Linked DNA regions of Homo sapiens: region 2 is linked to region 1. The links come from fine-mapping of genetic effects on gene expression. A gene starts in region 1. The other region holds a variant in brackets. All regions are shown on one strand. Distances are from middle to middle.

Region 1 (4,532 bases):
GTGGGGTCAGTGGTGATATCACCCTTATCACTTCTGATTGTGTTTATTTGAATCTTTTCTCTTTTATTCTTTATTAGTCTAGCTAGCAGTCTATCTATTTTATTAATTTTTTTCAAAAAACCAGCTCCTGGATTCATTGATTCTTTGAAGGGTTTTTCATGTCTCTGTCTTCTTCAGTTCTACTCTGATTTTGGTTATTTTTTGTCTCCTGCTAACTTTGGGTTGGTTTGCTCTTTTTTCTCTAGTTTGTTTAGTTGTGATGTTAGGTTGTTAACTTGAGATCTTTTTAGCTTTTTGATGTGGACATTTAGTGCTATAAATTTCCCTCTTAACAGTGCTTTAGCTGCATTCTGGAGATTCTGGACATTGTAGTTTTGTTCTCATTGGTTTCAAAGAACTTCTTGATTTCTGCCTTAATTTCATTATTTAACCAAAAGTCATTCGGGAGCAGATTGTTCATTTTCCATGTAGTTATATGGTTTTGAGTGAATTTCTTAATCTTGTGTTCTAATTTGATTACACCTTGGTCTGAGAGACTCTTTGGTATGTTTTCAGTTCTTTTGCATTTGCCAAGGAGTGTTTTACTTCCAATTATGTGATCAATTTTAGAGTAAGTGCTGTGGCGATGAGAAGAATGTATATTCTGTTGTTTTGGAGTGGAGAGTTCTGTATATAGCTATCAGGCCCACTTGATCCAGAGCTGAGTTGAGGTCTTGAATGTCTTTGATAATTTTCTGTCTCAATGATCTGCCTAATATTGTCAGTGGGGTGATAAAGTCTCCCACCATTATTGTGTGTGAGTCTAAGTCTCTTTGAAGGTCTCTAAGTACTTTCTTTTTCTGGGTGCTCCTGTATTGGGTGTATATATACTTAGGTTAGTTAGCTCTTCTTGTTGAAATGAACCCTTTACTGTTATGTAGTGGCCTTCTTTATCTTTTTTGATTTTTGTTGATTTAAAGTCTGTTTTGTTATAAACTAGGATTGCACCTGTTTTTTTCTGTTTTCCATTTGCTTGGTAAATTTTCCTCTATCCCTTTATTTTGAGCCTATGTGTGTCTTTGCACGTGAGATGCGTCTCTTGAAGATAGCATACTAATGGGTCTTGGCTCTTTATCTAGCTTGTTATTCTGTATCTTTTTTTGGGAGGCATTTAGCACATTTTCATTTAAGATTAGCATTTTTATGTGTGGATTTGATCCTGTCATCATGATGCTGGCTGGTTATTTTGCAGGTTTATGTGGATACTTCATTGTATCATTGGTATGTCAGTGTGTTTTTGTAGTGGTAATGGTTTTTCCTTTCTATATTTAGTGCTTCCTTCAGGAGCTCTTGTAAGGCAGGTCTGGTAGTGATGAATTTCCTCAGCATTTGTTTGTCTGAAAAGGATCTTATTTCTCCTTTGCTTATGAAACTTAGTTTGCATATGAAATTCTGGGTTGGAAATTCTTTTCTTTAGGAATATTGAATACTGGCCCCCAATCTTTTCTGGCTTGTAGGGTTTCCACTCAGAGGCCCAATGCTTGTCCGATGGCCTTCCCTTTGTAGGTGACCTGGTCTTTCTTTCTGGCTGTCCTTAACATTTTTTTCTTTTTTCTTTTTTTTTTCAGATGGAGTTTCACTGTGTCACCCAGGCTGGAGTGCAGTGGCACGATCTCAGCTCAATGCAACCTCTGTCTCCTGGGTTCAAGCAAATCTCCTGCCTCAGCCTCTTGAGTAGCCTGAGTAGCTGGGACTAAAGGTATGTGCCACCACACCTGGCTAATTTTTGTATTTTTAGTAGAGACAGGGTTTCACCACGTTGGCCAGGCTGGTCTTGAACTCCTGACCTCAAGTAATCCACCCACCTTGGCCTCCCAAAGTGCTGGGATTACAGGCATGAGCCACTGTGCCCAGCCAACATTTTTTCTTTCATTTTGACTTTGGAGAATCTGCTGATACATATCTTAGGGATGATTTTCTTGAATAGTTATCTTACTGGGGTTCTCTTGTTCCTGAATTTGAATGTTGGCCTATCTTGCTAGGTTGGGGTCATTCTCCTGGATGATATCCTGAAGTATGTTTTCCAACTTGGTTCTATTCTTCCTGTCTCTTTCAGGTACCCCAATCAGTTGTAGGTTTGGTCCTTTTACATAAACCCATATTTCTCAGAGGTTTTATTCATTCATTTTCATTCTTTTTTCTCTATTCCTGTCTACCTGTCCTATTTCAGAGAGATAGTCTGCAAGCTCTGGGATTCTTTGCTCTGCTTGGTCTATTCTGCTATTAATACTTGGGATTACATTGCGAGTACTTGTAGTATGTTTTTCAGCTCTGTGAGGTCGGTTATGGTCCTTTCTATACTGGCTGTTTTGGCTGTCAGCTCCTGCATTGTTTTATCATGATTCTTAGCTTCTTTGCCTTTGGTTAGGACATACACCTTTAGCTCAGCAAAATTGGCTTTTGTCCACATTCTGAAGCTTACTTCTGTCATCTTGGGCTCAGCCTAGTTCTGAGCCCTTGCTGGAGAGGTGTTGTGATCATTTGGAGGAAAAGGGGCTCTCTGGGTTTTTGAATTTTCAAGATTTTTGCGTTGATTCTTTCTCATTTTTGTGGGCTTATCTATCTTCGATCTTTGAGGTTGCTGACCTTTGGATGGCGCTTTCATGGATTGTTTTGTTTTTTCATCTTTTTCTTTTAGCAGTCTGTTTACTCTTCCTTACAGATGCTGCAGTTAGCTGGGGGTCCACTCTACACCCTGGTTGCCTCAGTTTTTCCTGTACTTGGAGGTATCAGCAGTGAATGCTATGAAACAGCAAAGATGGCAGCCTGCCCCTTCCCCTGGAAGCTCCATCCCAGGGCGGTACTGTCCTGTTGCCAGCATGAGCACACAGTATGTAGGGGGTGGCTGGAGACCCCAGTTGGGACATCTCACCTAGTCAGGAGGAACGGGATCAGGGATCCACTTAAAGAAGCAGTTGGGCTGTTTTTGATAGAGCAGTTGTGCTGTGTTGGGGATCCCATCAGCCCCTTGTTGGTTTGGGCTCTCCGAGGCCCACAGGCTGAACTGGCTGAGGTGCCCAACAGCCAAGTTGGTGGCCCGCCTTCCCCTCTGGGCACTCTGTCCCAGGGAAAAATTAGAAGTCTGTTGGCCACAGAACATGGGCGGGGGTGGCTGGATACCCCAGCTGGCATGATCTACCCGTCAAGGAAAAGTGGATCAGGGTCCCACTTAAAGAAGCCATCTGGCCATGCCTCAATAGAACAGCCTTGTTGTGCTGGGAAACTGCTTCTGCCCTTGTTGGCTTGGACTCTCTAAAGCCCACTGGTTGGAATGGCTGAGTCATTCAAACAGCCAGCTTGGTGGCCCTCCTTTCCTCCCCTCCTCCCCTCCCCTCCTCCTTCCCTCCTCGCCTCCCCTCGGGCATGCTATTCCAGAAAGAGATCAGGATCCGTTTGTGGAATACAGGCAGAGATGGCTGGAGGCCCCGGTTGGGAGGTCCCTCCCAGTGAAGAGGAATGGATTGGGGCCCCACTTAAAGAAGCAACCTGGCCACGTTCAGGCAATGCCGCTGTAGTGTTCTGGGAAGACCCTTCCTTGTTTGAACCATATGGATTCTCCGAAGCCCATAGACTGAAATGGCTGAGTCAACCAAACAGTAGAGATGGCAGCCCACCCCTCCCACTGGGGACTCTGTCCCATCACAGGTAGGCTATATTCCAAGCCAGTAGGTCTTATTTTGTGAGGTGTTGTGGAAGTGGGACCCACAGATTGATGCTGCTTGGCTCCCTGGATTCAGCCCCCTTCCTAGGGGTATGTACAGACCTCCCACCTTGCCTGAGTTACAGACACCTCTGTTGGGGATCCTGGGGCCGGAATATGTAAAGTTCCTGGATCTCTATGCATGCCTGAGCAGCTGCTCTGCTGAGACTCAACACACCTCTGTGTGTGGGACCCAAGACCCTGGTGATGTGGGTGCACAAGGTGGTGTGGGTGCACTGATCTCCTGATCTGTGGGTTGCAAAGATCCGTGGGAGAAGCGTGGTTTCCTGGGGTTGCACACTCACTCACTGCTTCCCTTGGCTGGGGGTGGGAGTTCTCTTGGCTTCATGTTGCTCCCAGGTGGGCTATTGCCCCACCTTGCTTTTCTCTCTTCTCCATGGGTCGAGTTGTTTCTGTGATCAGTCCCAGTGTGAGTGCCTGGATATTTCAGTTGAAGGTGCTATATTCACTTGCTCCTTTCTTCCTCTCCCTGAGTGCCACAGACAGCTGCTGCTTCTAATTGGCCAACTTGGCCCCCCTCCCCTGGGTTCTTAATAACGTAATTAAACCACAACCCATCCTAAAACTTATCCTACTTCTAGATTTCTGTTGAGTTCAGAAATACCCTCATTTTTAAAGATAATTGGAGTCAGGGTTTCTGTTACTTGCTGTCAAAAGCATTCTTAATTAGACTTGCTAATATTTGACTTTGGATTTTAAGAATAACCCAATATGTATTTTATTTTTACTATTGTTTAGTATTTAGTATACTTTAGTATCAGAATTAAATTTG
Region 2 (4,000 bases), 43 kb after region 1:
ACTCTAAATTAAGGGAAGGTAAATTATGATCAAGATCTGGGAATAAGATTTAGACTTACACAGTAATAATTTGAGGAAGAGAAAGACTTAGTAAATTAGTTATGTAATTACATAATTAACAACTTGGGAGGTTTTCTTTACACGTTTATTCCCTAGGGCATCATCTTTAAATTATATTTAGTTTTTGCTAAGTTGACCAGTTTGTGGTTTTAAGTGTTTACTTTCTTTTCTTTTGAAATGTAGGGAAAGCATATTTGACATCATCTTAAAGAAATTATGTAGCCATATAAAACCGGAGGGTAGGGTCTACTGGCCAGGAAAAAAAAAGGCCTTTACTGCCACCTGGTGGCCATATTCTTTAACTGCAATGTGCCTAAGTGAGGCTGGAAAGGAAAGCGTTGGAAAACATGCTAAACCCAGAGGGCACCAAGGCCGCGTCATGACAGTAAGAGCCGTCAAGTACTGTGTCCTTTCCCTCAGTTCTCAATCTCTCACAGCTTGAGGCTTGAGAATTAGCAGCTGGCTACGAGAGGTGGAGGAGAGAAAATGGTGAAGTCCATGCCTTCCTCCTTGGTACCGAGTTTCCAAACCTGAAGTGAAGGAGTCTGAGAGGGGAGAAGCTTCAGGTTGAGTAGACTGTTTTTTACTTTTTTTTTTGTTTGTTTGTTTTAAAGAGCCTCTTTATTTAATGGCTCAGAGTGGCTAGAAAATCCGTGGTATTGGTTAGCTTTCATCTCAAGTGCAGGGACAAGGCAAATCCAGAGAGAGGAGTTGAAAGGACAAAGAAAAAAGAAAAAAAATTGCTTTTTACGTGCATTTTGCTGCATGCAGCTCACTCAATAAACATGCGTTAAATGCATAAATATATCATGAGGTAAAAATCGGGGGAAAGGTGATGCATTGATGCTGATAGAGGACAGGCAAACTGCATTCCATTTGGACCGCAGCCTCTCATCCCCCCCCCCGCCACACAAACTAAGGTCAAAATCAGGGAGGGAGTCCAGGGTAAAGTTATCAGTAGAGTCAGCTCTAGGAGCTATAGTTAATCTATTTTAAAAAATCTTAAAAAACCCATAAGTCCATTATAGCAGGGACATAAAGCAGTCCTAGCCTCCTGACCCTGACCCAGCCATGGCAATCAGGGCTGCTTCCTTTTATTCTCCCTTGTGTCCTCATGGGTCTTTCCAAGCCCTGCAGGGAAGGGTGGAAGCTGGTTCCATCAGTGCCTCTCCCCCAGCTTCCACCCTCCTCTCTCTTCTGTGACCTCTCAGTTTTCCTTCTCTGTACCCCAAATCATGCCTGTCTTAGTCCATTGCTGTAACAGAATTCTACAGACTGGATCATTTATAAAGACAAGAAATTTATTGCTTATAGTTCTGGAGGCTGGGAAGTCCAAGCACATGGTGCTGGCATTTGGTGAAGGCCTTCTTGCTGCATCCTCACGTGGCAGAGGGCATCACATGGCAAGTGGGCAAGAGCAGGCTTGTCCGCTTGGGTTACTCTAACTCTTCTTTTTTTTTTTTTTTTCTGAGACGGAGTCTTGCTCTGTCACCCAGGCTGGAGTGCAGTGGTGTGATCTCAGCTCCCTGCAAGCTCCGCCTCCCAGGTTCAGGCCACTCTCCTGCCTCAGCCTCCCAAGTAGCTGGGACTACAGGTGCCCGCCACCACACCCGGCTAATTTTTTTGTATTTTTTTGGTAGAGATGGGGTTTCACCGTGTTAGCCAGGATGGTCTCGATCTCCTGACCTCGTGATCTGCCCGCCTTGGCCTCCCAAAGTGCTGGGATTACAGGCGTGAGCCACAGCACCCGGCCAGGTTACTCTAACTCTTCTTATAAAGCCACCAGCCCCACCGTGGGGGCCACACACTCATGGCCTTATTTAATCTTAATTACCTCTCAAAGGCCCTACCTCCAAATGTCATCGATATGTGAATTTGGGAATTAAGTTTCCAGCACATGAAATTTGGGGGTCACATTCAAACCATAGCAATGCTTAACCTTAGAATACTGCCTGGCATCTGCCCAGGCTTCCACAGCCACTACCTCTGGGACATGTTGGGATCTCTGTTTACATGTAAGGCTCGCCATGACCATTACACATCTGTGAGTCAGTGTAGGGTCCTGGTGGAAGCCCGGTCTTGGAGTCCCTCCATTATGTTTGCTACCCTGGCTCTCCACCTTCAATTTCTGGCTTCTCATTTTGGACTATGATGATTTTCTTGTTGTTAATTTTTTTTTTTTTTTT[A/TA]GTATGAAAGTTTTCAAGACGCCTACAAGTGGAAAATGCACTCCTCCCAGCCAAATCAAGCTTCGCCAGATTCCTTACAGCTGTGTGCAGTGAAATGACTAATGAAAGAGCCCTCTGCTGCTGGTGGAACTTTCACATATGGCACTGTTATGCCACTCAGCAGGACCCGACCCTGGTATTTACATATTGGATGTCACCCCAAAAGCCCCTGACCAGGGGGTTTCCGGGATGTAATAAGAATGCCACTCTGGGCTTTGGAAGGTGCACCGTATGCACACCCATACTATAGGGCAGGGGTTAGCATTTCAGACCCCTGTTCCTCCCTTGACAAGCAAGTGCTTTTCTCCAGGGAAGACGTTCAGGTTCATTCATAGATCCATTGGTGCCGTGGGCAGCTCAGTAACAATAGCTCTGCTGCCTACCAGCTGCTGGTGGAGGTGTTGAGAATACCTAATGAGGAAGTCAGGGCCCCTGCGTGCTTCAGCAGAGCTGGATGCCTGGCATGGCAATCAATGGACACAAACCTTTGGATAATTTCCGTCCTTGGCGGTGTGTTCTATAGCATAGGTATGAAGTGGGTGCTCTGGGAGCTCAGAAGAGGGGCTCTTCTCTTAACTTATGGGTGGCCAGGGAAGGCTTCCTGGAGCTCAAATGACTGAGTGGAGTCTTCAACATTAAAAAAAAAAAAAAGAAAAAAAAAGTGCTTCCCTCCCACCCCCAGTTAAAAAGGTAATACACCTCATTGAAATAATTTAAACTTTACAGAAATGTGTTCCTTTAAAGTTCAGAGAGTAAAGAGGAAGTAATAAAGCTGAAATAGTAGAATTTCTAATTAACTGGAGCCTGTAGCTTTCTTCCTGAAAAGGGAGTGGTGTGTGTGCATGTGTGAGTGTGTGTAGGTGAATCTGTAAAGGATGGAGTAGTACTAAAAAGAGGGAGGTGAAGACGGAGGTGAGATCTCATCTTTGTGCCCTGAACCTCTTTGTTATAATGTCAGGCAATGAGAGAAATCAGTACTCACCCTCTATGGGACTCTGGCTTTTTCAAACTTGGTTTTCTAGGTTTTGGTCTTGGTTATTGATGGCTTGTAACTTCAGAGTCTCATTGCTGGCCACGCTTCCACGTGGTTTATTAAGATGTTTTCCTAAACAAAATTGATCTCTCCCTAAAAAAATTATAGGTCTAGCTGTAAGATGTTAACAATATTTAACCTGCTACAATGCCAATAAGAGTTCTTGTTTATTGAAGACTTTTTTTGCACCAGCTATGTGCTAAGAGCTTTACATTTGTTACCTCATAACATCAACCCTCACACGAACCTTATGAAGCGGGTATTTCATTATTCCCACATCCCAGATAAGGAAGCTAGGATTATTATTGCTGCACCCGCAAAGCTGATAATCAGTGGGGCTCGGCCCCAAACCGAGGTGTCTCTGACTCCTGGGTCTATGCTCACAAATGCACCATTCCTCTGCATTATTTCTCAAAAATATTTGGCTATAGGAGCATTTTCAAAAGTGAGCACCACTTACCTCTTAGTACTGTTATTAGCATTCCGTGGGACACAATTTGGGAAATACTGCCCCAGGAAAATACTGCCCTGTCTTTAAAATAGAGATAATAATACAATCTCCATATTGTGATGATTAAAAGACGTTTCAGGAAATGGGTGCTGAGGATACTTACCTTCCACCAGGAATGTGTGTGTGCTTTAAAAATAACATTTGTGGCCGGCCACAATGGCTCACAACTGT

Which allele goes with the higher level. Alleles are on the strand shown, and positions count from the first base shown. SD is a standard deviation of normalised expression in the study named.
For the expression in prefrontal cortex of the gene that starts at base 2,700 in region 1, allele A in region 2 goes with a lower level than allele TA (large effect, 1.0 SD a copy in BrainSeq).

The links. PIP is the estimated chance that this variant, and not a neighbour inherited with it, causes the effect.
Region 2: its variant is fine-mapped to the expression of PRDX6-AS1 in prefrontal cortex (BrainSeq, PIP 0.95).

What each region holds. Positions count from the first base shown.
Region 1 is chr1:173,459,530-173,464,061 of GRCh38, reverse strand. PRDX6-AS1 (PRDX6 antisense RNA 1) reads left to right here and starts at 2,700. Exons shown (of 2, transcript NR_125960.1): 1 at 2,700-3,684. It overlaps LOC100506023 (a long non-coding RNA gene), which reads left to right. Exons shown (of 3, transcript NR_037845.1): 2 at 1,608-1,738. RefSeq lists an enhancer at 3,471-3,970.
Region 2 is chr1:173,416,871-173,420,870 of GRCh38, reverse strand. It overlaps PRDX6-AS1 (PRDX6 antisense RNA 1), which reads left to right. Exons shown (of 2, transcript NR_125960.1): 2 at 2,249-3,082. The region is part of intron 2 of LOC100506023 (a long non-coding RNA gene); the gene reads left to right. It also overlaps a transcript of TNFSF4 not described here. Among named protein-coding and RNA genes, the nearest start is that of PRDX6-AS1, 42 kb to the left of the region's middle. RefSeq lists enhancers at 492-591, 2,350-2,689. The variant A/TA (reference allele first, on the strand shown) is at 2,247.